Regions from separate parts of the Homo sapiens genome. Here regions 1 and 3 are each linked to region 2. Evidence: fine-mapped expression QTL. A gene starts in region 2. Each other region holds a variant in brackets. All regions are shown on one strand. Distances are between the middles of the regions. Region 1 holds the start of APOC4 (apolipoprotein C4). Region 2 holds the start of APOC1 (apolipoprotein C1). Region 3 overlaps CLPTM1 (CLPTM1 regulator of GABA type A receptor forward trafficking).

What was found. PIP is the estimated chance that this variant, and not a neighbour inherited with it, causes the effect. A credible set is the group of variants that fine-mapping cannot tell apart.
Region 1: its variant is the best candidate, but not a certain one, in a credible set for the expression of APOC1 in monocytes (Quach 2016, PIP 0.66).
Region 3: its variant is the best candidate, but not a certain one, in a credible set for the expression of APOC1 in lung (TOPMed, PIP 0.68).

The regions. Positions count from the first base shown.
Region 1 is chr19:44,935,516-44,943,076 of GRCh38, forward strand. It overlaps APOC4 (apolipoprotein C4), which reads left to right and starts at 6,722. Exons shown (of 3, transcript NM_001646.3): 1 at 6,722-6,838. The coding sequence starts at 6,763. APOC4-APOC2 (APOC4-APOC2 readthrough (NMD candidate)) reads left to right here and starts at 6,723. Exons shown (of 6, transcript NR_037932.1): 1 at 6,723-6,838. The variant G/C (reference allele first, on the strand shown) is at 3,135.
Region 2 is chr19:44,910,573-44,918,133 of GRCh38, forward strand. APOC1 (apolipoprotein C1) reads left to right here and starts at 4,036. Exons shown (of 4, transcript NM_001645.5): 1 at 4,036-4,161; 2 at 4,300-4,377; 3 at 5,618-5,753. The coding sequence starts at 4,320. RefSeq lists enhancers at 2,072-2,831, 3,590-4,349, 4,350-5,107 and a promoter at 3,049-4,175.
Region 3 is chr19:44,983,880-44,991,440 of GRCh38, forward strand. CLPTM1 (CLPTM1 regulator of GABA type A receptor forward trafficking) reads left to right here. Exons shown (of 14, transcript NM_001294.4): 6 at 1,339-1,424; 7 at 2,576-2,696; 8 at 3,300-3,544; 9 at 4,201-4,294; 10 at 6,516-6,706; 11 at 6,971-7,066; 12 at 7,359-7,494. Among named protein-coding and RNA genes, the nearest start is that of RELB, 14 kb to the right of the region's middle. RefSeq lists enhancers at 5,222-5,381, 5,862-5,911. The variant T/C (reference allele first, on the strand shown) is at 3,499.

The DNA.
Region 1 (7,561 bases), 25 kb after region 2:
GCTGAGATTGCCCCACTGCACTCCAGCCTGGGCAACAGAGTGAGACTCCATCTCAAAAAAAAAAAAAAAAAAAAAGAAAAAGAAAAAAGGGTAAATTTTATGGAATGTGAATTATAACTCAATTTTTCAACATGCATTAGGAGGGACATTTCAAACCCTTTTTTACCCCAGCCTTCCCTGCAATCACCCAGAGTATCCAGCCAGGAGGGGAGTGGCTAGAGACACCAGAAGATTAGCAGGGAGGAGGGTGCAGGGTTTCGGGGGATGAGGGGATGGGATTCAGACCAGGGTAAGGATCCAGGGGTAGAGAGAAAGATTTGAGAGTGGTTTTGGGGCTTGGTGACTTAGAGAACAGAGTTGCAGGCTCTGTTTTTGGGCCCGCCCTGCCCCCTTCCGACCTCTTAGTTCCTATCCTCCAGCAGCTGTTTGTGTGCTGCCTCTGAAGTCCACCCTGAATGACCTTCAGCCTGTTCCCGTCCCTGATATGGGCAAACATTGCAAGCAGCAAACAGCAAACACATAGCCCTCCCTGCGTGCTGACCTTGGAGCTGCGGCAGAGGTCAGAGACCTCTCAGGGCCCATACCACTTCCAACATCCCCTTGATCTCTTGGATTTTGGTGGAGAGGGGCAGAGGTTGTCCTGGCCTGGTTAGGTAGTGTGAGAGGGTCCCGGTTCAAAACCACCACTTGCTGGTTGAGGAGTCGTCAGTAAGTGGCTGCGCCCCCACCCTGAGGCTTGTTTCTCCATCTGTACAATGGAAATGATGAAGATGCCCACCTGATAGGGTTTTTGTGGCAAATAAGTAAGTAGTTTTTTTGTTTTTCTTTTTCTTTTTTTTTTTTTTTTTTTGAGATGGAGTCTCACTCTGTCACCAGGCTGGAGCGCAGTGGCGTGATCTCGGCTCACTGCCAACTCCACCTCCCGGGTTCAAGCGATTCTCCTGCCTCAGCCTCTGAGTAGCTAGGACTACAGGCGCCCGCCACCACACCCAGCTAATTTTTGCATTTTTAGTAGAGATGGGGTTTCACCATGTTGGCCAGGATGGTCTCAATCTCTTGACCTTGTGATCCACCTGCCTCGGCCTCCCAAAGTGCTGGGATTACAGGCATGAGCCACCACGCCCAGCTCCCCCACCTTTTTTTTTTTTTGAGATGGAAAGCTCTGTCACCCAGGCTAGAGTGCATTGAGCCATCTTGGCTCTCTGCAACTTCTGCCTCCCGGGTTCAAGCAATTCTCCTGCCTCAGGCTCCCAAGTAGCTGGGATTACAGGCGCCCACAACCATGCCTGGCTAATTTTTGTATTTTTAGTGGAGACAGAGTTTCACTATATTGGCCAGGCTGATCTCGAACTCCTGACCTCAAGTGATCTGCCTGTGTCAGCCTCCCAAAGTGCTGTGATTACAGGCATGAGCCACCATGCCCCACCGCAATTAAGTAAAGTAATCATCTAAAAGCCCTGCCATGGTTCCTGCCACACAGTGTGTGCTGGGGAAGCGCGCACGAATTAAACAGTAGCTGGCGTTGACGGGGCACCTATGCGGCATTTTCTGTGCACGATCTTTACTCTCCCTGGCAACCCTATGAGGTAGATAGTCCATGACTCCCATTCATGGATGAAGAAACAGGCCCACACAGGTAAAGCAACTTGTACCAGGTCATACCGCTAGAAAGATGTAGAGTCAGCCACGCGCGGTGGCTCATGCCTATAATCCCAGCACTTTCGGAGGCTGAGGCGGGATGATCACTTGAGGTCAGGGGTTCGTAACCAGCCTGGCCAACATGGTGAAACCCCGTCTCTACTAAAAATACAAAAATTAGCTGGGCGTGGTGGCGGACGCCTGTAATCCCAGCTACTCAGGAGGCTGAGGCAGAAGAATTGCTTGAACCCGGGAGACAGAGGTTGCAGTGAGCTGAGATCACGTCACTGCACTCCAGCCTGGGTGACTGAGCAAGACTCCATCTCAAAAAGAAAAAAAAACAGGCCAGGAGCAGTGGCTTACACCTGTAATCCCAGCACTTTGGGAGGCCAAGGCGTGTGGATTGCCTGAGGTCAGGAGTTCAAGACCAGCCTGGCCAACGTGGTGAAACCCTGTCTATACTAAAAATGCAAAAATTAGCTGGGTGTGGTGGCAGGCGCCTGTAGTCCCAGCTACTCGGGAGGCTCAGGTAGGAGAATTGCTTGAACCCAGGAGATGGAGGTTGCAGTGAGCCGAGATCGCGCCACTGCACTCCAACATGGGCAATAGAGCAAGACTCCATCTCAAAAAACAAAGAAGGGAGGGAGGGAAGGAAAGAAAGGAAAAGAAGCAACAGGTAGAGTCAGGCTCTGAACCCCACACCAATCATAACACAACACACAGTAGGTTTGTTTTTGTTTTTTATTTTGGGCTTTTGTTTGTTGTGGAGACAGCGTCACCCAGGCTGTAATGCAATGGTACAATCATAGCTCACTGTAGCCCTGAACTCCTAGACTCAAACAATCCTCCCACCTCGGCCTCCTGAGTAGCTGGGACTACAGGGGCATGCCACCACGCCTAGCTAAATTTTTTTTTTTTATTTTTAGTAGAGATGAGGTCTCCCTATGTTGCCCAGATTAGTGTCTTAACTCCTGGGCTCAGGTGATCCTGCCACCAGGGATTACAGGCACGAGCCACCATGCTGGCCCTTGTTTTTTGTTGTTTTTTTTTTTTTTTTTTGAGACGGAGTCTCGCTTTGTCGCCCAGGCTGGAGTGCAGTGGCGGGATCTCGGCTCACTGCAAGCTCCGCCTCCCGGGTTCACGCCATTCTCCTGCCTCAGCCTCCCAAGTAGCTGGGACTACAGGCGCCCGCCACTATGACCGGCTAATTTTTTTGTATTTTTAGTAGAGACGGGGTTTCACCGTTTTAGCCGGGATGGTCTCGATCTCCTGACCTCGTGATCCGCCCGCCTCGGCCTCCCAAAGTGCTGGGATTACAGGCGTGAGCCACCGCGCCCGGCCTGTTTTTTTTTTTTTTTTTGAGACTGAGTCTCGCACTGTCGCCCAGGCTGGAGTGCAGTGGCGCGATCTCGGCTCACTGCAACCTCCACCTTCCAGGTTCAAGCAATTCTCCTGCCTCAGCCTCCTGAGTAGCTGAGATTACAGGTGCCCACCAC[G/C]ATGCCCAGCTAACTTTTTTTTTTTTTTTGGTATTTTTAGTAGAGACGGGGGTTTCACCATGTTGGTCAGGCTGGTCTCGAACTCCTGACCTCGTGATCCGCCCGCCTTGGCCTCCCAAAGTGATGGGATTACAGGCGTGAGCCACCGTGCCCAGCTTTTTTTTTTTTTTTTTAAGAGACGGGGTCTTACTATGTTGCCCAGGCTGGACTCTCAAACTCCTGGGCTCAAGGAATCCTTCTACCACAGCTTTCTGAGTAGCTGGGGCTACAAGCCCCTGCCACAGTACCTGGCTGTTTTTGTTTTTTTATAATTGTGGTAAAATATAAACAACATGGCCGGGTGTGGTGGCTCACGCCTGTAATCTCAACACTCTGGGAGGTTGAGGTGGGAGGATTACTTGAACCCAGGAGTTCAAGACCAGTCTGGGCAACTTGGCAAAACTGTGTTTCTACAAAAAATAAAAATATTAGCTGGGCAGCCAGGCGCAGTGGCTCATGCCTGCAATCCCAGCACTTTGGGAGGCTGAGGTGGATGGATCACCTGAGAGGTCAGGAGTTTGAGACCACCCTGGCCAACATGGTGAAAACCTGTCTCTTTAAAAATACAAAAAAATGAGCCAGCCATGGTGGCTCACGCCTGTAATCCCAGCACTTTGAGAGGCCAAGGCAGGTGGATCACCTGAGGTCAGGAGTTCAAGACCAACCTGGCCAACATTGTGAAACCCCGTCTCTACTAAAAATACAAAAAATTAGCTGGGCATGGTGGCAGGCGCTTATAATTCCAGCTACTAAGGAGGCTGAGGCCGGAGAATCGCTTGAACCCGGGAGGCGGAGGTTGCAGTGAGTCAAGATCGCACCATTGCACTCCAGCCTGGGCAACAAGAGCGAAACTATGTCTCAAATACATACATACATACAAAAAATTAGCCGGGTGTGGTTGCCGCACACCTGTAATCCCAGCTACGCGGGAGGCTGAAGCAGGAGAATCGCTGGAACCCGGGAGGCAGAGGTTGCAGTGAGCCAAGATCACACCATTGCACTCTATCCTGGGTGACGGAGTGAGACTCTGCCTCAAAAAAAAAAAAAAAAAAAAAAAAACTTAACCATTGCAGCCATTTTTAGGTGTACAGTTCAGTGGCATTAAGTACATTCACACTGTTGTGCAACCATCCCCACTATTTGCAGGATGTCTTCGTCATCCCAAACAGAAACTCTGGGTGTTTTCAATCTGCTGATGATTGCTACAGAGGAATTCCAGGGGACATCTGTTGCGCACCTACTGTGCTCACGCTGGGGCCTCTGGGATGGACAGGATTCTGCCAAGGCAGACATCTGGGTCAAGACAGTCCTGCACAGTTGTTCAGGTTGTGGCCAAGGTTGCGTTTGCAGATTTGCCATGTAAAAATACAGGATGCTCAGTTACATTTGAATTTCAGATTAATAGCAAAAAAAACTTTTTGGTATAATTCTGAAATATTTCATGGGACATATTTATACTAAAACGTCATGCACTGTTGATTTGAAATTCAAATGTAATTGGGCCTCCTCTATTTCGTCTGGCAAGCGTAGACAAAAGAATCCAGTCCAGGCCAGGCGCAGTGGCTCAAGCCTGTAATCCCAGCACTTTGGGAGGCCGAGGCGGGCGGATCACGAGGTCAGGAGATCGAGACCATCCTGGCTAACACGGTGAAACCCCGTCTCTACTAAAAATACAAAAAATTAGCTGGGCGTGGTGGCGGGTGCCTGTAGTCCCAGCTACTCGGGAGGCTGAGGCAGGAGAATGGCGTGAACCTGGGAGGCGGAGCTTGCAGTGAGCCGAGATCGCGCCACAGCACTCCAGCCTGGGCGACAGAGCCAGACTCTGTCTCAAAAAAAAAAAAAAGAATCCAGTCCATAGTCCCCTGAGCCATGTGCCCTGGGGTGCAGCTGGGTCCTTCAGGAGAAAAATGCTCTATTTCTGGCACTGGGACCGAGCCTGATGTGGGTTTTTTGTTGGTTTTTGTTGTTGTTATTGTTTTTGAGACAAGGTCTCGCTCCACCACACCCGGCTAATTTTTGTATTTTTAGTAGAGACGGGGTTTCACTACGTTGGCCAGGCTGGTCTTGAACTCCTGACCTCAAGTGAGCCGCCTGCCTCGGCCTCCCAAAGTGCTGGGATTACAGGTGGGAGCCACCGCCCTGGCCCTGGGCCTGATGTTGATGACCTCCTACTATGTGCACCTGCAGCTCTCCTGCATAGGCCTCAGCCGTCCTGCATGAGGACACTGGGAGGCAGGTGCTCCCTATCAACCCCGTGTTACAGTTGAACAAACTGAGCCCCAGAAAAGAAAACGTATTTGCCCAGGTCACACGGTGAAGAAGTGAGGGATTCGAAGCCCAGGTCCATCTGAAGCCAGAGTCACCCAGAGGAGAAAGAGTTGGAATTGAGAACTCAAGGAATGCTTGGAAGTGATCGGGCTCGAGCCCACCTAGGAAGAAACAGAGGCTGGAGACATGAGACTGTGTTGCTATTTCCTCTCATCAACCCTTGGGCCCTATTGAGGCCCTACCACAAGCCTGGCCCTGCAGCCCAGTGACTAGGAGAAATTAGACACAAGATAATAATAACAGCAATGATCTTTTTTTTTTTTCTGAGACGGAGTCTTGCTCTTTCGCCCAGGCTGGACTGCAGTGGCGCGATCTCGGCTCAATGCAAGCTCCACCTCCCAGGTTCACGCCATTCTCCTGCCTCAGCCTCCCGAGTAGCTAGGACTACAGGCGCCTGCCACCACGCCTGGCTAATTTTTCATATTTTTAGTAGAGATGGGGTTTCACCGTGTTAGCCAAGATGGTCTCAATCTCCTGACCTCGTGATCCGCCTGCCTCGGCCTCCCAAAGTGTTGGGGTTACAGGCATGAGCCACCGCGCCTGGCCAACAGCAATGATCTTTGAGCACCTATATTGCCAGTCTCCACGGTAAGAGCTTTCTTCATTTTTTGTTTTGTTTTGTTTCAAGACAGAGTCTTGCTCTGTCACCCAGGCTGGAGTGCAGTGGTGTGATCGCGGCTCACTGCAGCCTTCACTTCCCGGGTTCAAGCCATTCTCCTGCCTCAGCCTCCCAAGTAGCTGGGATTACAGGCACGCATCACTACTTCTGGCTAATTTTTGTATTTTTAGTAGGGACAGGGTTTTTCACCATGTTGGCCAGGTTGGTCTCAAACTCCTGGCCTCATATGATCTGCCCACCTCGGCCTCCCAAAGTGCTGGGATTACAGGCGTGAGCCACTGCGCCTTTCTTTGTATTTGTTCAAGTAATATACTGAAATATGTACTGTGCCTCCCACTTTATGGAGGAGGAAACTGAGGCCAGCAAATGAGGCTGTCATGGGAGGTGGAGACAGGATTTGAACCTGCCTCAGTGCAGGAGGCTCAAGAGCCTCTGTCTTCTCTCAGGGCACTGTGTGGGAGGGTGAGAAGGAGGGAGGCCCACAGAGGCATGACCTCTGATTGCCACTGTCACCTGGGCCCTGCTCTCTGAAGTCTCTGCCAAGCGGGGAGGTGGCCGGGGGAGGGCCCTGCTCTGTGCAGCCTCCCCTCCCCCGGCCCGCAGAGTTGAGCACAGAGGGACAGAGGCACGGAACCCCCAGAAATGTCCCTCCTCAGAAACAGGCTCCAGGCCCTGCCTGCCCTGTGCCTCTGCGTGCTGGTCCTGGCCTGCATTGGGGGTGAGAAGAAGTGGGTGGAGGGATGTGGGGCCCACACCTGGTGGGTGTGAGTGTGGCTGTGTGTCCTGTGGCTCTGTAGCCACGTGAGACATGAGTACGGAGTGTGTGCGTTTCATGGCGTGCGTATGCATGTGCGTGTCGGGGAGTGTGTGTGTCGGTGGCTGAGAGTGAAGTGTGAATGTCACATTGGTACAAACTGGGATCATCTGTGTGTGTGCACGTGCGTGCGTGGAAGTGGGAGTATGCAGTCGTGGTAAAAAAGTGCATGTCTGTGTGCATATGTGTATTTGTGTGCACCTGTCTCTCTGTGGGGTATGTGTGTGCAAAATATTTGAGTGTGTGGACATGTGTGAGGGGGTGAGTGTGTGCTGGTGTGTACGTCTGTGTTTTGCATATGCATTTTTTTTTTTTTTTTTGAGACGGAGTCTCACTCTGTCACCCAGGCTGGAGTGCAGTGGTAGCAGTGGTGCGATCTTGGCTCACTGCATCATCCGCCTACCCGTTTCAAGGGATTCTCCTGCCTCAGTCTTCAGAGTATTTGGGACTACAGACACACGCCACCATGCCTGGCTAATTTTTTTTTTTTGAGACGGAGTCTCGCTCTGTTACCCAGGCTGGAGTGCAGTGGCGTGATCTTGGCTCACTGCAACGTCCGCCTCCCGGGTTCACGCCATTCTCCTGCCTCAGCCTCCCGAGTAGCTGGGACTACAGGAGCCCACCACC
Region 2 (7,561 bases):
GGTTTGAGCTCTCTGCTTCTCCGGTTCCCTCTGAGCTAGCTGTCCCTTCACCCACTGTGAACTGGGTTTCCCTGCCCAACCCTCATTCTCTTTCTTTCTTTCTTTTTTTTTTTTTTTTTTTTTTTTTTTTTTTGAGACAGAGTCTTGCTCTGTTGCCCAGCCTGGAGTGCAGTGGTGCAATCTTGGTTCACTGCAACCTCCACTTCCCAGATTCAAGCAATTCTCCTGCCTCAGCCTCCAGAGTAGCTGGGATTACAGGCGTGTCCCACCACACCCGACTAATTTTTGTATTTTTGGTAGAGACAAGGCTTCGGCATTGTTGGCCAGGCAGGTCTCGAACTCCTGACCTCAAGTAATCTGCCTGCCTCACCCTCCCAAAGTGCTGGGATTACAGGCATGAGCCACCTCACCCGGACCATCCCTCATTCTCCATCCTTTCCTCCAGTTGTGATGTCTACCCCTCATGTTTCCCAACAAGCCTACTGGGTGCTGAATCCAGGCTGGGAAGAGAAGGGAGCGGCTCTTCTGTCGGAGTCTGCACCAGGCCCATGCTGAGACGAGAGCTGGCGCTCAGAGAGGGGAAGCTTGGATGGAAGCCCAGGAGCCGCCGGCACTCTCTTCTCCTCCCACCCCCTCAGTTCTCAGAGACGGGGAGGAGGGTTCCCACCAACGGGGGACAGGCTGAGACTTGAGCTTGTATCTCCTGGGCCAGCTGCAACATCTGCTTGTCCCTCTGCCCATCTTGGCTCCTGCACACCCTGAACTTGGTGCTTTCCCTGGCACTGCTCTGATCACCCACGTGGAGGCAGCACCCCTCCCCTGGAGATGACTCACCAGGGCTGAGTGAGGAGGGGAAGGGTCAGTGTGCTCACAGGCAGGGGGCCTGGTCTGCTGGGCCTGCTGCTGATTCACCGTATGTCCAGGAGCTGGAGCAGCACCCTCTCAGAGCCTCAGTTTCCCCAGATGTCAATGAGAGAATCAGCATCAGCCACATCTCCCACCTGAAGAATCGAACCTTGAGTTCTCACCTTTAAGAATTTTTTTTTTTTTTTGAGACAGTGCCTTGCTCAGTCGACCACGCTGGAGTGCAGTAGCACGATCATCAATCACTGCAGCCTCCAACTCAAGCAACCCTCCTGCCTCAACCTCCTGAGTAGCTGGGGCCACAGGCACCCACCACCATGCCTGGCTAATTCTTTCTTTTTTGAGATGGAGTCTCACTCTGTCGCCCAGGCTGGAGTGCAGTGGCACCATCTTGGCTCACCGCAACCTCTGCCCCCCGGGTTCAAGCAATTCTCCTGCCTCAGCCTCCTGAGTAGCTAGAATTACAGGCGCACACCACCACACCAGGCTAATTTTTGTATTTTTAGTAGAAACGAGGTTTCACCACGGTGGTCAGGTTGGTCTCAAACTCCTGACATCAGGTGATCCACCCGCCTCGGCCTCCCAAAGCACTGGGATTACAGGAGTGAGCCACCATGCCTGGCCATATTTTAAACTTTTTTGTAGAGATGGGGTCTTACTATGTTGCCCAGGCTGATCTCAAACTCTTGGGCTCAAGCAGATCCTCCTGCCAAAGCTTCCCAAAGTAGTTGGATTACAGGTGTGAGCCACCACGCCCCACCAACCTATGAAGATGTCTAAGCAGACAGGGTGCCCTATCTCACCACATCCCCAGTCAGATCCAGAGGTGGGACAAGGATGGGAAGGAGGTTCCAGAACAAAGGCTGGCAGGGAGTCGTATGGGACAGGAGCTGACCCAGCAACCATCCACAGAGACATCCTGGAGCCTGGGAAGGAGAAGGACAAAGAGCCCCCTTTTTTAAATTTTTTTTATGTTTTTGAGACGGAGTCTCACTCTGTCACCCAAGCTGGAGTGCAGTGGCACAATCTTGGCTCACTGCAACCTCCACCTCATGGGTTCAAACGACTCTCCTGCCTCAGCCTCCTGAGTAGCTGGGACCACAGGTGCACACCACCATGCCTGGATAATTTTTGAATTTTTGGTAGAGACGGAGTTTCACCATGTTGGCCAGGCAGGTCTCGAACTCCTGACCTCAAGTGCTCCGCCCACCTTGGCCTCCCAAAGTTCTGGGAATACAGGCGTGAGCCACTGCAACCAGCCAGTAGCCCCCATCTTTGCCCCTCGCTGAGCCCTACTGGATGTTCTTGGTTATGCGACAGTTTCCCCATCTATTAAAGAGAAACCCCTATAGCAGAGGGGAGGATGAGGTTGGAAAAGCAGGAGCATTGTTATGCTATTCTTGTGGGGTCTGGGAAGCAGACATCTGGGTGGATGTTTGGGGGGTGCTGGGCTTAGTTGGGGAAGTAGGGGGGCCCCTGGGGCTGACAGGGACTGGAAGCTCTGAGCTGGCCAGAGGGATGTTGCAATCCTGCCAGGGTCTTGTCTATGCTGTCCTTTTCACAACCATCCCCCTACTGCCAGGCTGACACGTGGTTGCGGGGGCACAAGGCCAGCCAACCTAGAGTCTGAGGCTAGGCGGAGGACACCCTCCCCACCAGCTGCCAGGGTCACTGGCGGTCAAAGGCAGCTGGTGGGGAAGGCATTGGACTCCAGCCTTGGGGGACGGATGTAGTGATGGTGGGAAGCAGGCTTGGTGCCAGGAGGGGCGTCAGAGGGTGAATAAAAGCAGATAGAGTGTTTGGGGGAGGTAGCCAGCCAAAGGGGGTGAGGCCCGGTGGAAGGGAAGAAGGGACATACACGCAGAGCTTTGCAGCTGAGGGTTTTAATTTTTTGAGATGGGGTCTCTGTCCCACCAGGCTGGAGTGCAGTGGCACAATCACAGCTCACTGCAGCCTCGAACTCCTGGGCTCAAGCAATCTTCCTACCTCAGCCTCTTGAGTAGCTGGGACTACAGGCATGCGCCACCACGCTCGGCTAATTTTTGAACTTTTTTGTAGAGATGAGGTCTCCCTATATTGCCCAGGCTGGTCTCGAACTCCCAGGCTCAAGTGATCCTCCCTCTTCAGCTTCCCAAAGTGCTGGGATTACAGGCATGAGCCACCATGCCTGGCTAATGCAGGTGAGGTTTTTGCAGTGTCATCCAGCTAAGGCGACCCGTTCCCCTCCCAAAAAAGGGAGACTGAGAACCATGAAGTTAAGAGCCCAGAGAATATCACGGTGGTCTGGGGTGCTTCAAGGGCTGGTCTGGAATAAATTGGAGGTGGCACGCAGGGTAGGAGCGCCGGGCCAACTGGGAGACCCAGCAACATAAAGGAAAAGTTGTTGGGGCTGAGGAGGCTTGCTGAGAGAGGGGAAGTGAGGGAAAGAGGTGATCTAGGGACACGGTGTGAATGAGGGGGGGATGAGATCACAGGGTTATTACTGGGAGACCCCTGAGGGAAGATGGCCACAGGGACAGGACAAGGCTGTCTTCTTAAGGGAGGAGACCACCCCTCATATTGTCTTATGCCCAATTTCTGCCTCCAAAGAAAGAAAAAGTAAAAACTAAAAGGCAGAAATGAAATCCACAAGCAGACAGCCCGCGCCACACCCTGGGCCTGGTGGTTAAAGATTGACCCCTGACCTAATCCGTTAGGTTATCTATAGATTACAGACATTGTATAGAAAAGCACTGTGAAAATCCCTATTCTGTTTTGTTCCGATCTAATTACCGGTGCATGCAGCCCCCAGTCACGCATCCCCTGCTTGTTCAATCGATCACGACCCTCTCACGTGCACCCACTTAGAGTTGTGAGCCCTTAAAAGGAACAGGGATTGCTCACTCGGGGAGCTCGGCTCTTGAGACAGGAATCTTGCCCATTCCCCGAACGAATAAACCCCTTCCTTAACTCAGCGTCTGAGGAATTTTGTCTGCGGCTCCTCCTGCTACATTCTGAGTGGGGAAAGGGACTAAGGTGGTCTGAGGACCCCACAGAGTCAGGAAGATTGAGAGGTGAGAGTGCTGAACGGGGAGGGGCTTTGGGGCTAAGGGAAGTGCCCGGGACCCCACCTGACCCCAACGCTCACGGGACAGGGGCAGAGGAGAAAAACGTGGGTGGACAGAGGGAGGCAGGCGGTCAGGGGAAGGCTCAGGAGGAGGGAGATCAACATCAACCTGCCCCGCCCCCTCCCCAGCCTGATAAAGGTCCTGCGGGCAGGACAGGACCTCCCAACCAAGCCCTCCAGCAAGGATTCAGGTTGGTGCTGAGTGCCTGGGAGGGACACCCGCCTACACTCTGCAAGAAACTCAAAAAGGGAGATGAGGGGATCGTGGGAGGGAGGTAGGGAGGGAGGAGGGTGCCACTGATCCCCTGAACCCCTGCCTCTGCCTCCAGAGTGCCCCTCCGGCCTCGCCATGAGGCTCTTCCTGTCGCTCCCGGTCCTGGTGGTGGTTCTGTCGATCGTCTTGGAAGGTAAAAGTGGGATGGGAGAATTGCGGAGTTGGAGATTTGGAAGAGTGAAGGTGGCTACAGGCCTGGGGTCCCGGCTTAGAGGACCTCTGAGAGCTCCGGGGCCCCTTCTGGGTCGTGGTTGCCTCATCGTGGTCGGGTGGGTCTCCAGGTTCTCCCAGGCTCAGTCCCGCAGGCGCCAAATCTGCGCAGGAGAGCACTAGCAACCGATGACGTATTGAGGCCCACACCTCTGGGATTGGCTGTCCTGCTTCGACAGCCTTGAAAGTGGGTAAGCTGGGTGGGGGGCTCTGGGAGAGGTCAGTGCTGAGTAAGGCAATTCCCAGCAGCTTGAGCCCCACCAGGTCACTCCAGTATTCCTCCCCATTCTTTTTTTTTTTTTTTTTTTTTCTCTTGAGACGGAGTCTCGCTCTGTCGCCGAGGCTGGAGTGCAGTGGCGCGATCTCGGCTCACTGCAAGCTCCGCCTCCCTGGTTCACGCCATTCTCCTGCCTCAGCAGGACTACAGGCGCCCGCCACCGCGCCCGGCTAATTTTTTGTATTTTCAGTAGAGACAGGGTTTCACCGTGGTCTCGATCTCCTGACTTTGTGATCCGCCTGCCTCGACCTCCCAAAGTGCTGGGATTACAGGCGTGAGCCACCGCGTCCGGCCATTCCTCCCCATTCTAACCACATGATCCCCAAGGATCTCTATCCATCCCGGTATCCCAACCTAAGGGGGTTCCAATAACAAATTTTTGGCCGGGCAGGGTGGCTCATGCCTGTAATCCCAGCACTTTGGGAGGCCGAGGCGGGCAGATCACTTGAGGTCAGGAGTTCGAAACCAGCCTGGCCAACATGGTGAAACTTCGTCTCTACTAAAAATACAAAAAAATTAGCCAGGTGTGGAGGCACGCGCCTGTAGGCCCAGCTACTCGGGAGGCTGAGGCAGGAGAATCACTTGAACCCGGGAGGCGGAGGTTGCAGTGAGCCGAGATCATACCACTGCACTCCAGCCTGGCTGACACAGCAAGACTCCGTCTCAAAACAAAACAAAACAAAAATAGCTGGGTGTGGTGGTGCACACCTGTAATCCCAGCTACTTGGGAGGCTGAGGCAGGAGAACTGCTTGAACCCGGGAGGTGGTGGTTGCAGTAGGCCGAGATCATGCCACTGCACTCCAGCTTGGGCTACAGAGCAAGACTCCATCTCCAAAAAAAAAAAAAAAAAAACAAATTTTGAACCCCTGCCCATCTTCCTGGCAGGCCCAGCCCCAGCCCAGGGGACCCCAGACGTCTCCAGTGCCTTGGATAAGCTGAAGGAGTTTGGAAACACACTGGAGGACAAGGCTCGGGAACTCATCAGCCGCATCAAACAGAGTGAACTTTCTGCCAAGATGCGGTTAGAACCCTTCCCAGGGCACGGGAGAGCTGGGGTGTGTTTTTGGGTGGAGCCCTGGCAGATGGTCCAAGATGAACAGATTGAAAAAAAAACAAGTCCTGGAGAGGCTGACAACATCCCTCTGGTCACACAGCTAGATCTCAAGGTGCTCAGACTTCAAGGACAGTTTCCCTGACTCCCATCCAGGCCATATTTTAAAAGATGGTCTTGGGCTGGGCACGGTGGCTCATGCTTGCAATCCCAGCACTTAGGGAGGCCGAGGTGGGCTGATTGCCTGAGGTCAGGAGTTCGAGACCAGTCTGACCAACATGGTGAAACCTTGTCTCTACTAAAAATACAAAAAAATTAGGCAGGCATGGTGGCGTGCACCTGTAATCCCAGCTAGTCGGGAGGCTGAGGCAGGGGAATTGCTTGAACCAGGAAGGTGGGAGTTACAGTGAGCCAACATTGTGCCAGCCTGGGTGACAGAAGGAGACTCTGTCTCAAAAAAAAAAAAAAAAAAAAAAAAAACAAGATGGTCTTGCCCAGGTATGGTGGCTCACACCTGTAATTCCAGCACTATGGGAGGCTGAGATGGGAGGATTGCTTGAGCCCAGGAGTTCGAGACCAGCCTGACCAACATGGCGAGATCCTGTCTCCATTTAAAAAAAAAAAAAAAAAGATGGTTTTGTGAGGTAATGAAAATGAAGGCCCCAAGCTTGGCCAGACCTGGGTCCCCAGGCTGGAGTAGCACCCCTTCCTGTGTGATCTTGACAGAGGGGCATTACTGTGAGCCTCAGTTTCCTCTCCTATAAACTGGTGGTTCTACAGGGAAGTAAAGGAGCAGGCCTACAGGGTGTCTGGTACATGTAGATGCTCAGTATATCATGAAACCCACCCTTGCCCCCTTTGGCAAGTTAGAGAGTCATTCGTTCTTTCAAAAATATTTACTGAGCATCTGCTAAGTGCTGGAAACTGTTTCAATGTGGGGAATAAAACAGTGAAGAACGTGCCGAGCACGGTGGCTCACACCTGTAACCCCACCACTTTGGAAGGCCGAGGTGGGTGGATCACTTGAGGTCAGGAGTGCGAGAACCCCGTCCCTAATAGAAATGCAAAAAAAATTAGCTGGGCATGGTGGCCCATGCCTGTAGTCCCAGCTCCTTGGGAGGCTGAGGCGAGAGGATTGCTTGAGCCCAGGAGATCTAGGCTGCAGTGCGCCATGTTTGTGCCACTGCATTCCAGCCTGGGTAACAGAATGAGACCCTGTCTCAACAAAAAAAGAAAAGAAAAGAGAAGAAAAGAGAAAAGAAAGACAGGGAGGGAGGGAGGAAGGAAGGGAGGGAGGGAGGGAAAATAGAGCCAGGCATAAACTTAGAAAGATCGTTTGGAGGCCAGGCACAATGGCTCACACCTGTAATCCCAGCACTTTGGGAGGCCAAGGCAAGCAGATCACCTGAGGTCAGGAGTTCGAGACCAGCCTAACATGGAGAAACCCTGTCTCTACTAAAAATACAAAATTAGCCGGGCGTGGTGGTGCATTCCTGTAGTCCTAGCTACTCGGGAGCCTGAGGCAGGAGAATCACTTGAACCCGGGAGGCGGAGGTTGCAGTGAGCCGAGATCATGCCACTGCACTCCAGCCTGGGCGACAAGGCGAGACTCCATGCCAAAAAAGAAAAAAAACTCCTGGCGCGGTGGCTCACGCCAGTAATCCCAGCACTGTGGGAGGCTGAGCAGGCGGATCACGAGGTCAGGAGTTCGAGACTAGCCTGCTCAACATAATGAAACCCTCTCTGTACTAAAAATACAAAAATTAGCTGGGTGTGGT
Region 3 (7,561 bases), 73 kb after region 2:
TGAACCCAGGAGGCGGAGGTTGCAGTGAGCCGAGATTGTGCCACTGCACTCCAGCCTGGGTGACAGAGCGAGACTCTGTCTCCAGAAAAAAAACAGAAACGTCCCCAGGCCAGGGCAGAGGTTGGGAGATGGAGCGTGGGCACGCACAAGCCCCTTCCTCCCCGGCAGCATTTGGGACAACATGGCAGGGGGCCTGTGGCCAACTGGGCCTCTGCGAGAGGAAGTGAGGCCAACTCCTGGCTGGGGATTCACAGCCTCAAAGTGTTTCTCATCTTGGTTTCTCATGTTGGTGGCTTCAGGCCTTTTTTGGAACCGTCTGCTGCCTCTTTATAGTCATGTATTCAACTGGTCATCACCGAGCCTGTGCAGGCGCCCCATGTGTATTCAAACAGGCCCTGCCCCTACCCGCATTTCCGCACAGAGTTTGCAGACTGGTTGCAGGGACAGACAGCAGGCAGGTAAACCACTGGCTAAGTGGTTTTGGATAGTGGTGAAATGTTGTGAAGGAAACAAGCTGGCAGGAGAATGACTGCATAGGCTCATTCAGTGGGGTGGCCAGGGAAGCCCTGTGGAAGAAGGACATTCTGCCAGGGACTTGAATGCCACGGAGGAGCCAGGCCACGAAGATTGTGTCAGGGCATGGGTTCCTGGGACACGGGGCAGCACGCCTGAAGGCCCCGGGTTGGCATGTTTGAGAAGTGGAAGGTGGTGAGGGTTGAGAGGTCACCGGGGCTACGGTGAGTGTCTGGGGTTCCAAAGCTGCGGGATGCCATGATCAGTCACTTGTTTTTATTTATTTGTTTGTTTGTTTTCTTTTTCTTTTTGAAACGGAGTTTCGCTCTTGTTGCCCAGGCTGGAGTGCAACAGTGCGATCTCAGCTTCCTGTAACCTCCACCTCCCTAGTTCAAGCGATTCTCCTGCCTCAGCCTTCCGAGTAGCTGGGATTACAGGCACCCGCCACCACATCCGGCTGATTTTTGTATTTTTATTAGAGACGGGGGGTTTCACCATGCTGGCCAGGCTGGTCTCTAACTCCTGACCTCAGGGGATCTGCCCGCCCCAGCCTCCCAAAGTGCTGGGATTACAGTGCCCTACTGAGCTGGGGTTTCTGCCTGGGGCATTTGGTGATGGTGGCGTCCCCATGATCATGAGGAACTGGGATTCGTTGAGATTTGGGGAGGCAGTTCTGGCATTCCAGGTCACATTGATCTCAGCAGGTGAGTGCAAGGTGGATGCCAGGAGACCGTGAGCCGTTGCTGGTGGGCAGGGGTCCGGGCTCTGGAGGCTGCAGGTGCCAGCAGGTCTCACGTCCCCTCCTTTCCCACCTCCCAACCACAGTGATCAACAAATACAAGCGCAGACGATTTCAGAAAACCAAGAACCTGCTGACAGGAGAGACAGAAGCGGACCCAGAAATGATCAAGGTAAATGGGCAGGGTTGTCAGGGCCTATAGGGACCAAGCCAGGCCATTCACAGCTCATCCCAGACCACTGGGGCTGTCATCTGTCACCACCACTGAACCACCATGCCGGCTCGGTCATGCCACCTCCCCTCCCTGAGCACTGGGCTCCTCCTCTGGGAAATGGGGTCAGGAGGCAGCTGTCTCTCAGGGAGTGAGGAGGATCCCAGACAAGGTTACCTGAGCCTCTTGCCAGCCTGGGAGGGGTCTACATCACAGTCCCATTGTCACATGAGGACACTTGCTCAGTCTCAGCCGGAAGTGGCAGGCCAGGGACTCTCACCCACACAGCCAGGCCCCAGAGCCCAAGCTCAGCCTGGCTCCAAGCACACACACGAGAATATGGCTTTAGTAGGAACTGCAGGATTCATAGTTGCTGTCACTCCCAGTGGGCTGGGGAGCCGGGCAGTTAATCTGTGGTTAACCTGCAGTGGGCACTAAGAGACTTCCTCTCTCTGCGGGTGGTCCTGTGTTGGGGGGGTGGTCCCTGCTCATGGAGCTGAGGCCACCGTGCAAGAGTGTGTGGAGCCTGCTGTCATGAGGCTGGGCTTCGCAGCCTGGCCTAGGATGCCAGCCCTGCCTCTACCTCTACCTCGGTTTTCTACATGTGGGGTGGGAGGATCCTGTCGGTGGCCGGAAGGGTCCTGGGTGGCGGAATCTCTAAGCCTAGGGAGGAGAGCCTTCTGCCAGCAGTTGCTGTGGTGGCTGATATTCTGCTGCCAGGGTTGTCAGGGGAGATGGCTCATGCCTGTTTTCCCAGCATTTTGGGAGGCCGAAGCAGAAGGATCACTTGAGCCCGGAAGTTCAAGATCAGCCCAGGCAGCATAGTGAGACCCCATCTCTTCCAAAAAAGAGAAAAAAGAAAGAAAGAAAAGAAGCTGTCCATGGTGGCTCACGCCTCTAATCCCAGCACTTTGGGAGGCCGAGGTGGGAGGATCGTGCTTGAGCCCAGAATTCGAGACCAGCTTGGGCAGCATAGTGAGACCCCATCTCAGAAAAAAAAGAAAGCAAAGATTAAGATTTTCTCGGGAACCCTGGGGAGGAAGTGTACAGAGAGTGATAGTCCCCGAGCACTTCCACCTGCCTCTGAGGTCCTTCCCCCCATGTTGCCTCAGAGGGCTGAGGACTATGGGCCTGTGGAGGTGATCTCCCATTGGCACCCCAACATCACCATCAACATCGTGGACGACCACACGCCGTGGGTGAAGGGCAGTGTGCCCCCTCCCCTGGATCAATGTAAGCTCCCCAGCCCTGCCAGCTGCCTGCAGAGCCTTTGAGAGGGTGCTCGGGGTCCATCTCCTTGTCTTCTCCTGGCCCTGTCCCCCTGAGAGAGCTTTCCAGGGCTCCACCCTCCCAAGCTCCCACCCTGTCCTATCCCCTTCCCATGTCCTCTCCCTCTCCCACACCACCACCCCTGGGGACCCCAGGACTGACTTCTACACGCCAGCATCGGTCCGCAATCAAGTGCCATCCAGCCCACAAACTGTTTTCAAAAAATGTCTTATCACTTGCCAGCTTTTGAAATTGAGGCAGTATCACTTAAAAGCCACAATTTCTGGCTTATTTTATAAAACTGGGTTACATGGTCACCCACAGGGCAGCCGTGGGCTGGAGCTGAGCCACAGCTGCCCCCTTCAGTGGGGACCTGCCTGCCCTTTGCCTCAGTCCCCTCTGCTGAGGTCAAGGCACCCTTTAGCTCCTCATGGTGTGGCCTAGAAATGTCCCCTGTCCTCCAGTCTCTGTAGAGGGGCCCTGTTGGGTCTCTCCAGACATCTGAGGCCTGCGGGTACCCTGGCCTCCTGCCCGGGCCAAATGGTGCCCCTGCCCCACGTGCTGCAGATGTGAAGTTCGACGCCGTGAGCGGTGACTACTATCCCATCATCTACTTCAATGACTACTGGAACCTGCAGAAGGACTACTACCCCATCAACGAGAGCCTGGCCAGCCTGCCGCTCCGCGTCTCCTTCTGCCCACTCTCGCTTTGGCGCTGGCAGCTCTATGCTGCCCAGAGCACCAAGTCGCCCTGGAACTTCCTGGG[T/C]GATGAGTTGTACGAGCAGTCAGATGAGGAGCAGGACTCGGTGAAGGTGAGTGCGGCCGGTGTGGGCGGGACTTCCCGGTGCCTTCCTGGGCGCAAGAGGCCAAGAGGAAGTGTGCCAGGCCTGGGCTGTGGGACCTCCCGCCTGGTGCTCCTCTGCCCACAGTTTCACAACCTCCCAGGTCCCTTCTCCACAGTGAAAGGAAGTGGGCACCCAGCCCTCCAGCCCTAGATGACTGGGGGTCCTCTCCCCAGGCTGTTCTGTTGGACCCTTTGGGTCCAGACCTGTCCCTTCCTCCTTCTGTCCCAGACCTTGTGTCCCTGGCCCTGGCTCCAACTCTGTGTCTCTGCCATCTCACTGGGTCCTGAAATGTCAGCCTGTGTCTGTGGCGTGAGGCTCGGCTTTGCCTCCTGGGCTGTCGTCACTGTTGGGTCTCTGCTCCTGGCTCCCAGTGTCCCTTCACCCACTCCCCGCAGCACTCCCTTGGCCTCTGCCTCTTCCCCTAGTGCCATCTCCCCGTCTCTTCTGTCTTTGTGAGTCACCCTCCTCTCTCTCCCCATCTGCCCATCTCTGACCCAGTCTCCTCCTGGCTGGCCCACCTTCAGCCTCCCTCTACAGGCGGCCCCAGGGGCAGCCCTCGGGACAAAAGCTAGTGAAGGTGCTCCTGGGTGGGGACAGGCTGTGCTCACATGTGTCCCCTGCAGGTGGCCCTGCTGGAGACCAACCCCTACCTGCTGGCGCTCACCATCATCGTGTCTATCGTTCACAGTGTCTTCGAGTTCCTGGCCTTCAAGAATGGTAGGAACAGGACCCCAGGGCTAGTGAGAGGCTGTGCAGGGTGGGGGACAGGACCTGCCCCCTTCCTCCTCCCCTCCCTCCCCACATGTCCTCCCCCTGCCTGGGGTCTCTCAGCCCCACTCTCCAGAGGCCTAGTGAGCTGGGGAGGGGCAGTGGCCCCAAAACTCCCAACCCAGAAATTCCCACCCACCGGGTGTGGAGCTGAGGGAGGGGCTGGCCCGCTGGTGGGGCAGAGGCCAGGCCAATACTGCCAGGAAGCAGGGCTGGGGAACTCCAGAGCCAAGAGCAGGGAAGCCCCGGAGCTGCTCCCGCCACCCTGCCCGGCAGGCTGCCTGCTGCGGGAGGCCGCTTAGGGCTGAGTGGACGGGGCCTGCCCAAGTGGGAAGGAGGAGCACTGTCCCCCAAAGGTCCCTAGGTTCTAAGGCTGACCATACTGATGGCCAGCGTTTGAGGAGAAGCAGCCACATGCCAGGCACTGTCCTGGGTACCCTCCCCAGTAGCTCCTTGAGCCCTGTGGGAGCCAGAGGCTCAGGGATGTCACTTGCCCAGTCACACGGTTCCTAAGGGGCAGATGGTTCCAGCCCCAACTCTCATCTTCTAGGCCCTGCAGGCCACTTCTTCCTTGCCCAGAGCACCCCAGTCTGAAGGAGTGGCCTGCGGCCCTGTAGCTCCCGCAGGCGGCAAGAGGAATGAGTAGTAGTATTCCTGGTATTAAGATGCTATTGCCGGCCTGGTGGTGGCTCTCGCCTGTAATCCCAGCACTTTGGGAGGCCAAGGTGGGAGGATCACCTAAGCCCCGGAGTTTGAGACCAGCCTGGGCAACAAAGCGAGATTCGTTTCTACACAATTTTTTTTAAGAATTAGCTGGGCATGGCAGCGTGTGCCTATGGTCTCAGCTACTCGGGAGGCTTGGGCCTGAAAGGTCAAGGCTGCCGTGAGCCATGATCACACCACTGAACTCCATCCTAGGCAACAGAGTGACACCCTGTTCCAAAAAAAAGGACGCTCTTGCCATTATTGAGAACTACCATCTGGAAGAATGCAGTGTCATACGGGCACAGGAGCTGGTGCCGACCCCAGCCAGCCATCTACCAGCTGTCGCTGGGAGACGGGACCCTTCTGCCTAGGAGCTGGCTTGGCTGGGGTCCAGTGAGAAATGAGGCACAAGAAGGCTGTCCTCCCCAGTGTCATGCAGCAGGGGGCGCAGGCCTCACTTGGCACCAGTGCTGTGTGGCCTCCCTGGTCTAAGGAGAGGCTTGGGCCCAACTGCTCCCACGAGAACCCACCAGAACCCTGTCTCCAGACCCATTCTTCTCAGTTGGGACAGGGGTCATTCTGATGGGCAGGGGTGGGTGGGGTGAGGCTATGGAGTGTGCCAGAGCTCTGGGATGTGGGGGAGCTCTGGGATGTGGGGGAGCTCTGGGATGGGGTAGGGTGCACATGGACCAGAATTCACAGCCCTCACTCCCTGAGTGCAGAGCTGGCCCTGACTCTGCAGGACTGCAGACCTGGCTCCACCACTGTGCTACAGACGTGGTGGCTCAGCCTCCTGTGGCTGCGGTTAGATGCTCAGCCGGGCGGGGTCAAGAGAGGGGTGTCCGTGGTGAGACCAGGGCTCAGAGAGGAGCATGCTGACATGGATCCTTGGCAGCATCTAGGCGGAGCACTGGAAGGAGCTCCAGACTGGAGCCCAGGGCCCTTTTCAGTTTCCTGAGCATGGCTGTGAGCCAGTTCCTTCCCGGTGTCAGGGCAGGGGCCTGGAGGAGGTGGTCTTGAAGTGCATGCCACAGATCTTCCTTCCCAGGGAGGGCGAGCTGGCACCATGGTGTGGCACAGACCCCGCGTCCCTTCAGATTCTGCCATGCCAGGCTGTTTGGCCTCAGGGAAGCAGCTTCCCTGACCAGTCCTTAGCACCTGGCACGTGGTGAGCCCTGTCCATGGCACCAGTCACCGTCACCATCAGTCAAGGGACTGCACCTTGGGGTGCTGGGTGCTGACGTCCTATGGGAGGGCTCCAGGGGTGCCGCCTGTCTGGTGCTCTGGGGGTCACCCAATGAATATGAGAGCCTTCCTGGGAGAGAGGGGTCTCGTTCAGCACCCCTCCTGAGGACCCAGCCCCACCCCAGGGTGTGAGGATGCAGGCCAAGGGGGCCTGAGGGAGCTGCAGTAGGGTCTCAGCACCTCCTCAGCCTCCTGGTTCCCCCCTACCCCCTGCGCACAGATATCCAGTTCTGGAACAGCCGGCAGTCCCTGGAGGGCCTGTCCGTGCGCTCCGTCTTCTTCGGCGTTTTCCAGTCATTCGTGGTCCTCCTCTACATCCTGGACAACGAGACCAACTTCGTGGTCCAGGTCAGCGTCTTCATTGGGGTCCTCATCGACCTCTGGAAGATCACCAAGGTCATGGACGTCCGGGTAAGGCTGGGGCGCCATGCTGTCTCGGGAGCTGCAGGGGTTGGGAGGGGGTAGTGTGGCCCAGCTGGACCCTGGAGCTGGCCCCCGGGGGATTCCCAGCAAGTGCCTCACTCCCAGGACTGAGGGGATTTTCTCACCAGGGGATTTTTTGGGTCACACATGGGGCAGGGGAACTGGGAACGGTGGGGAAGGGCAGGGGCTGGTTCTGGCTTGTGGGGTGGGAGCCAGCGTAGCAACTGACCATGGCACCCACCTCATCCACAGCTGGACCGAGAGCACAGGGTGGCAGGAATCTTCCCCCGCCTATCCTTCAAGGACAAGTCCACGTATATCGAGTCCTCGACCAAAGTGTATGATGATGTGAGTGTCCTGCACAGTGGGCCCCTGGGGGTGGTCTCCAGGTACCACGTATCCCTGAGGCACCCGGGGCCGGCCATCTGTCTGCCGGACCCATGCTTTACAGCCTGTGCCACATCCTCTGTGTCCCCCATCTGCCATAACTGCTTCCCTGGGCGAGTCCGGAGTCCCCAGGGCTACCTGGAAATTCCCCCTGCCCGGCCTGCCAGACCAGGTGTGGTGGGTGAGGGCGGGGAGCAGGGCTGCCAGGCAGGGCTGAGGAGCTGGCTGACAGCCCCACCCTGTGGCCCCACAGATGGCATTCCGGTACCTGTCCTGGATCCTCTTCCCGCTCCTGGGCTGCTATGCCGTCTACAGTCTTCTGTACCTGGAGCACAAGGGCTGGTACTCCTGGGTGCTCAGCATGCTCTACGGCTTCCTGCTGACCTTCGGTGAGCGGTCCGGCCGCCCCAGGAGAGAGCAGGCCCCATGCTGCGCAGGGCTCACAGCCCCAGTGTA